Linked DNA regions of Homo sapiens. The protein of the gene in region 1 binds, or shares a complex with, the protein of each later gene. Each region holds a gene or a part of one and is shown on either strand. Other genes may lie near its edges.

Region 1 (3,586 bases):
ATAACTCTTCTGATAGCAGCTTATTTAAAACTCAGTGTATCCCTTACTCACCTAAAGGGGAGAAAAGAAACCCCATTCGAAAATTTGTTCGTACACCTGAAAGTGTTCACGCAAGTGATTCATCAAGTGACTCATCTTTTGAACCAATACCATTGACTATAAAAGCTATTTTTGAAAGATTCAAGAACAGGAAAAAGAGATATAAAAAAAAGAAAAAGAGGAGGTACCAGCCAACAGGAAGACCACGGGGAAGACCAGAAGGAAGGAGAAATCCTATATACTCACTAATAGATAAGAAGAAACAATTTAGAAGCAGAGGATCTGGCTTCCCATTTTTAGAATCAGAGAATGAAAAAAACGCACCTTGGAGAAAAATTTTAACGTTTGAGGTGAGTCAGCATTTTACATACATGGCTACACATAACTCAAGATGCCCAAAATGATTTGTTGGCCAATTTAGAATTGTCTCAGATATACTGGGAACAGACTGTCTGCAATTTTGATACTCTTCTATACTGACTTACCCCTAAAGTCCACCCTATCCTTCAACTGAATCTTGACTTGTATCTCTTAATATAACTACACTTTGCCATATTTAAAAGATAGTGCTCCAAGGCTCTTTGTATAAAATCCTTTGATCTTATCCCATCTCAGGTCTTTAAACACAACCCTAAAACTCAGTGGGGATAATAAAAGCTCACATAACTTGAAATTACTTTTGCAGTAACCTAAACTAAAACCACACATGCCTTATGTTCAGTGGATATATTCTTAAGGCCTAGATGTTTCTAAGCCAATTATCTGAAAAATACGCTAATACTTAGGAGTAGACTTTTTTAAATATTTGAGAGTTGTATGTTGAATGAATTCAGAATTAATTTATGATCCCTTGCCAGAACCTGAAATTTTATTTGGGAGGATTAATACATGTTAATCTCTTCAGTTAATCTCTTAAGTTTAAGGTGATTATAGTAAACATTAGAAATCTTATTCCTGTTTTTACATTTTAAAATGCCTTTAGTAAGTCCCAGACATGACAAGATATGTACTTCACTTTTCCATGTTACCAGCTTAGGTAAATTCATAATTGTAATGTGAATTTTAATAATCAGCATTTGATAAGTCCACAAGTGGGGAGTAGTTAAGATAGCAAATTCAGAGTCTTTGCTAAGGGGGGGCATTGCCCTTTTTGAACATAGGCACCTGCTGGGTCTTAAAAATAAAATCTCGACATACTTATGGTGTTTTTAATATATAGCAAGCTGTTGCAAGAGGATTTTTTAACTATATTGAAAAACTGAAGTATGAACACCACCTGAAAGAATCATTGAAGCAAATGAATGTTGGTGAAGATTTAGAAAATGAAGATTTTGACAGTCGTAGATACAAATTTTTGGATGATGATGGATCCATTTCTCCTATTGAGGAGTCAACGTAAGTGGAATCATATGAAATACTTTGGTAATAGGTTATAAATTAAATTTCTATGTTAATTGCTTCATATTTTGCCTTTAATATAGTTATACTTAAATAATGAACAAAGATACAGAGTATGACAATTGGGATTATTACAGTTGAGCCAAGCTTGGCACACCGTTCATCTAGAATTCTCCAGAACACAAAATTCTCAAATTTTGTGTTTCCTTTGACTAGTATTGCAGTTTCAGTTATATTTCAGAGTGGAATATACAACTAATTAGGTCATCGAAGATTCTGTCATCTCGATGATAAATTTTAATATTACAGAGCAGAGGATGAGGATGCAACACATCTTGAAGATAACGAATGTGATATCAAATTGGCAGTAAGTGACTTATTTTTTTCCTATTCCATTTTGGGAAGGCAGGAGTTGGTTGATACAGAAGGAATTATATTTAGTTTTTCTCTTACACTTCATTTAACTTTTGAAAAGCTCTATAAGTTTACTGCAGGAAATGCAAGAAGGAAAATAATTTTTTAGAGACTTGATAAAGAACATGGGGTTTTCAGTACTATTTTTAATAAGTAGCATTCTGATACATATTATTGCTAGTTAGGATGTCAAATGAAAAAATAAGCAATGTTAATTTGGATTTTTAACATCTACATGTAGTCTCTAGGTTATCTGAAGTAATCCAGGGCATTCAGCTATATGTAATTACTAAACTATTTGAGTTATTGCTTAATCCATGATTTTTTGTTTGTTTTATGCAGGGGGATAGTTTCATAGTAAGTTCTGAATTCCCTGTAAGACTGAGTGTATACTTAGAAGAAGAGGATATTACTGAAGAAGCTGCTTTGTCTAAAAAGAGAGCTACAAAAGCCAAAAATACTGGACAGAGAGGCCTGAAAATGTGACAGGATCATGAATGTCAAAGGTGAAGCATATAGAAAAAACGACTTCATAGAAATGAATAAAGATAAATGTGGATATATGTACCAGTCTGGTGGTGAAGAAATTCTGAAACCCAGAACTTTATAACAAGAAAAAAAATTTTTAACCCTGTGAAGAAGTTTGTGAAAGAAACTTGTGAAGTAGTAATAATTAGAAAAAAAACCATTAAAACACCAGAGAAAATACATAGAAAAATTTGAGAAATTGTCATTTGATTTCTGAATAAGAGCTTACAGGTGTCCTGTGAGTATTGAAACAATGAAATGTAGTGATTTTAATTTTGAAAAGAAAATCTTAAAGTAACTTGACACCCAACCATCTTGAAGAGGGGATTTGAAATGCTGTAATTTTATCCCAGCTTTGTTCAGCCATGACAAGTGACCTGTCAGATGCTTAGTATTGTAATAACCTCATTTCCCTTTCCAAATTTAGAGTATCTTTAATACTATTTTTTTTAGACAGAGTCTCGATCTGTCACCCAGGCTGTAGTGCAATGGCCGCAGTCTTGGCTTACTGCAACCTCCATCTCCCGGGTTCAAGCGATTCTGCCTCAGCCTCCTTAGTAGCTGGGATTACAGGCGTTAGCCAGCACACCCAGCTAGTTTTTGTTTTTTTAGTAGAGACAGGCTTTCACCATGGTCTCGAACTCCTGACCTCAGGCGATCCGCCTGCCTTGGCCTCCCAAAATGCTGGGATTATAGGTGTGAGCCATGGCACCTGGCCTAATACTACTTTTAACTACCATTTTCACTTTTTATTAGTTCAAGAAAAGGCATACACATTTATTCAACATGTATACCTGGGGAGAACCAGTCATTACCCCGATGTTCATTATTTTGATCACCACGATAGAGCTGACTACTCTGCTATGTAGTGCATTTTGGGACTGCACTTATGTATGTTTTTGTTTAACGTGGACAAAGACTTACAGATAGGTGCAAAAAATAAATCCTCTTTTGCAACCCAGAACTCATTGTTCAGTATGAGTTTTGATACATATAAGAAGGGATATTATGATACCTGAGACAGTTGATTGATGGGAGTATTGATAGCCATAAAGGTTGGTTCCAGGCCAGGTGCAATGGGTCAAGCCTGCAATCCCCACACCAAGGTGGGAGTATTGCTTGAAACCAGGAGTTCAAGACCAGCCTAGGCAAGAAAGTAAGAAACACATCTCCACAAAAATTTAAAAATTAGCTGGGTACTGGGGCA
Region 2 (3,757 bases), on another chromosome or scaffold:
TAGTGGCTGCCAGTGTCCGGCAGCTGTGAGGAGGAATGGGGAAGGACTGCAAGTGGGTACAGGGTTTTGGTTTCATGGGAGAAAAAAAAGGTTCTAAATTTAGAGTGTGGTAATGGTTGGTTGCACAACTCTGTAAATGTATGAAAATACATTGAATTGTACAATTTAAGTGGGTGATGGCGTATAAAAAACGTCTTGATAAAACGAAAAAAAAAAGGATCACTCTAGTTGGAAAAAGAGAACAACTCTTTCAAGAAGTTTTGCTGAAAGAGAGTAAAACAATGAAGTATAGTCTATGGGGGAAGTTTGGGTCAAGAGATGATTTTAAGATAGAATAGGCTGGGCATGGTGGCTCACACCTGTAATCCCAGCACTTTGGGAGGCCGAGGCAGGCGGATCACGAGGTCAAGAGATTGAGACCGTCCTGGCCAACCTGGTGAAACCCCGTCTCTACCAAAATACAAAAAATTAGCCGGGCGTGGTGGTACATGCCTGTAGTCCCAGCTACTCAGGAGGCTGAGGCAGGGGAATCACTTGAACCCAGGAGGTAAGAGATTGCAGTGAGCCGAGATCGCGCTACTTCACTCCAGCCTGGCGACAGAGCAAGACTCCGTCTCAAAAAAAAAAAAAAAAGATAGAATAACAAAATTTTTACATGATGATGGGAAACATCCATAAAGAGGGGGGAAAAGGAAGAATTATTGGAATGAACATTTTAGTCCCCTTTAAAATAAGAGGTAAAAAGAAGTGTGCAAAAAAGGTCCCAATACAAACTCTCCACTCAAAAGTAGTTTTAGTAGCTTTTAGCAAAATCACTGAGATTCTGTAAAAGCTACTGTAGGTGAAGCTGTAGGCATAAACTTCTGGGAATCTATCATTTCTTCCAGCAAACTCAAATTTTATTTACCTCAGGTGCAGCCTGCCTTTTGTAGCTATCTGAATCTTCCAAGGTCTGAAAATAACTGTACATGTATTCTGCAGCTTGCTGCCATTGGTGCTTCAGCAGAGCTTCTTGGATAAAACTTAAACAAGCACTTGTTGTCTGAGCAAAATCCTTCCTCCTTTTCCCTCCAATGGCTATAAAAACGAAAAAGAAGAGAGTTTTTATCCAAGTGGCTCCAGTTCAACTATTCAAAAAACTTACTTCTGATAAGAAGTTTTAACAAGTAAACAGTAGGCATTACTTGACCCAGCCCATTCCCAGTACCAAAGCCAGCTTCACTTGAAACAAACCCTTCTACATTATATTAATTATTTTTAGCAGATAAAAACATTTCTAATTTGATGTTTTGGGGCTACTAGAGTCACCAGATCCTTTAAATCTGATTCAATCATCCTTTCATCCTTGTACCAAATAATTTGCGGAGAATCTCTCAAACAGGCCCCCAAAAGCACAGTCCCAGGTATTTAGAATGGGTAAAATGTCAGGGTCATTCTAGGCAAACATGGTCTTTATTACCTACCCATGTTCTGCAAACCCCAAGTGGGCTTTTATTTTTTAAGGACCAAATTCCTAGTAACTCAATGATATTATATACAAATGAGATTAAAACAGTTGCAAAAATTAGCATTTATATCTCTAAAGTATTGGCAATCCCAATGTTAAGAACATTTGGGCTTAGATACAGTGCTATTATATGAATGACTAGTTACATTGCTACATCTTCTTATCTTCCCACGTAACTATGAGACCCCTCTAGTCCAGCTGGGTAATTGTACCCCAGTAAGTACACAAAGACCAACAGGTACTTTACAAAGATACTTTTAAAACAATTAACTTGCAGATATTTGATTTCCTTACATACTCTTTCCACAAGTTAATCTCCTAGACAGCTGTGCCTACATAGTCAAAGCTTCACAATCAAAATCATTACACACTATCTGAAGGTGAAAACACAGGTGTTGAAAAAGTAAATAACTCTAACATCTCCTTTTGCAAGTTAGGCAATTCCCAATTCTTTGCTCATCAAAACTGCAGAACAACGTAATTTTTTACAATAAATCATTATGCAATTTTTCATCAATAATTTAGAAAAAATTCACAGACCTGATACACGGCTATAATTAAACTCCATTCACTGCCATCTACTTACTTATGTGACTAAGGTTTCTCAGAATTTATGTCAATTAAAAAAAATAGCAGAATCAATGCTAAATGTTTTCTCATTCTAGAAATACATAAAAGTCACCCACAAATACATAAAAAATTGGGGAAAAGTTTTAGATAACTTTATTAAAAAAAAAAAAAAAAGAGTCTTGCTCTGTCACCCAGGCTGGACCGCACTAGCACAATCACAGCTCACCATAGCCTAGACCTCCTGGGTTCAAGTGATCCTTCCTTTTGGCCTCCCAAAGTGCTGGGATTATGAGCATGAGCCACCACACCTGGCCAACAACACGTTTAATACACGTTATATTGATCAGCTGTGTACAACTATTAATGATAGCAATGTCTCAACCTAGAAAAAGTTTTAATTCTTAAAACTTACAGGATATAAACAAAAAAAGTATAAATATTGATACATACTTTTATTGCAAGAAGTACAACAAAGAGGAACATAAAATGTCCATCTATTAAAAGCTTGTTCATAATTTTTTTTAAAATGAATAACGCAAGGTATTAAAACCCTATGCCATTCCTGTGCTATTTGGACTCCATCACATATAAAGTAATATATAGTCATTTAAAAATACCAACATGCTGGAAATTTTATCTCTTGCAAATATTAAACATACAATAAAATTTTTTCAGATGATTCCTTAAAACTATGCAAGGTAGTACTCAATTTTTCAGAAAAAACTAGGGGATACAAAAGTGAAAAGTTTGAAGACTACTGTGCTAGACTAGTGTTCTCAGACTTTTGAATGTACATACAAATCACCTGGGGACCTGCCCTTGCTACTCAATGTGGTCCTGGCATGCAGCAGAAGTATCACCTGGAATCTCATTACAACTACAGAGTACTATGCCCAGCTCTCTCAATCAGAAGCTGCATTTTATAAGATCTACACCAAAGCTGCTCGGCATCAGTGGCAATACCTGCCAGCTAGCCTAGGAAACTGACAAAACACCTCGTCCTTAAAACATCCCTTATTTACCTAAAGGAGAGAACTGTTCTCAGGCTAAGCTCCCTTCTATCGCTCAAGCTTTCACAACTGAGATTATAAATTGACTTTAGATAACTATACCTAAATGTTTGGAAAATACTTTTGTCTTCCAACCTAGCCTAGCTACCTCAGGAAAAGTTCTCCTCTCATTTCATTCTTTAATGAGCAAAAGATAGTCTTACTTGATCCTGATGACTTTAAGAAAAAAAAATTGTCAAGGAAAACACATTTTTACATGGAATAGAGATGTACAATAAAGAACTAGTGTCATCAACCTAACTTCTAATATGCTACTCAAAGAATCTGGAAACTTATCAATCTGTCAACAAGTATTTTTTGGGCACCACTGTGTCCCAAGCACTATCGCAGGTACTCATCATACAGCTTCAATCCAGACTGGCCCTGTCTTCAAAGTTTTTATTCTAAGGGGGTTGCTGGGCATGCCCTTCAAAAAGCCAAAAGATATCTACCAGCATAAAAAATAAATAGAACAATTGTTAGGCAATTTTGTTTTCCTATTATGGTTAATTACCAGCACAATGTCAATATTAATTGCAAGTATTTTCTCATTGCAGACCAAAAGTATTTTCGGTTTAACAGGCTATCCATGACATATAAAATATTCCTAAGCATGTAAATTTTGGTCTTT

Evidence for each region. Proteins that work in one complex are often made in the same cells at the same time.
Region 2: TAF1D (region 1) and TAF1A share a complex: the UniProt entries of both Homo sapiens proteins name them as parts of the transcription factor SL1/TIF-IB complex.

What each region holds. Positions count from the first base shown.
Region 1 is NC_000011.10:93,734,912-93,738,497, reverse strand, and holds the end of TAF1D (TATA box-binding protein-associated factor RNA polymerase I subunit D), read left to right. Parts: coding exon 1-389; intron 390-1,258; coding exon 1,259-1,434; intron 1,435-1,746; coding exon 1,747-1,804; intron 1,805-2,193; coding exon 2,194-2,337; 3' UTR 2,338-2,931; downstream 2,932-3,586. UniProt on the Homo sapiens protein: Component of the transcription factor SL1/TIF-IB complex, which is involved in the assembly of the PIC (preinitiation complex) during RNA polymerase I-dependent transcription.
Region 2 is NC_000001.11:222,583,221-222,586,977, forward strand, and holds part of TAF1A (TATA box-binding protein-associated factor RNA polymerase I subunit A), read right to left. Parts: intron 1,078-3,757; coding exon 908-1,077; intron 1-907. UniProt on the Homo sapiens protein: Component of the transcription factor SL1/TIF-IB complex, which is involved in the assembly of the PIC (pre-initiation complex) during RNA polymerase I-dependent transcription.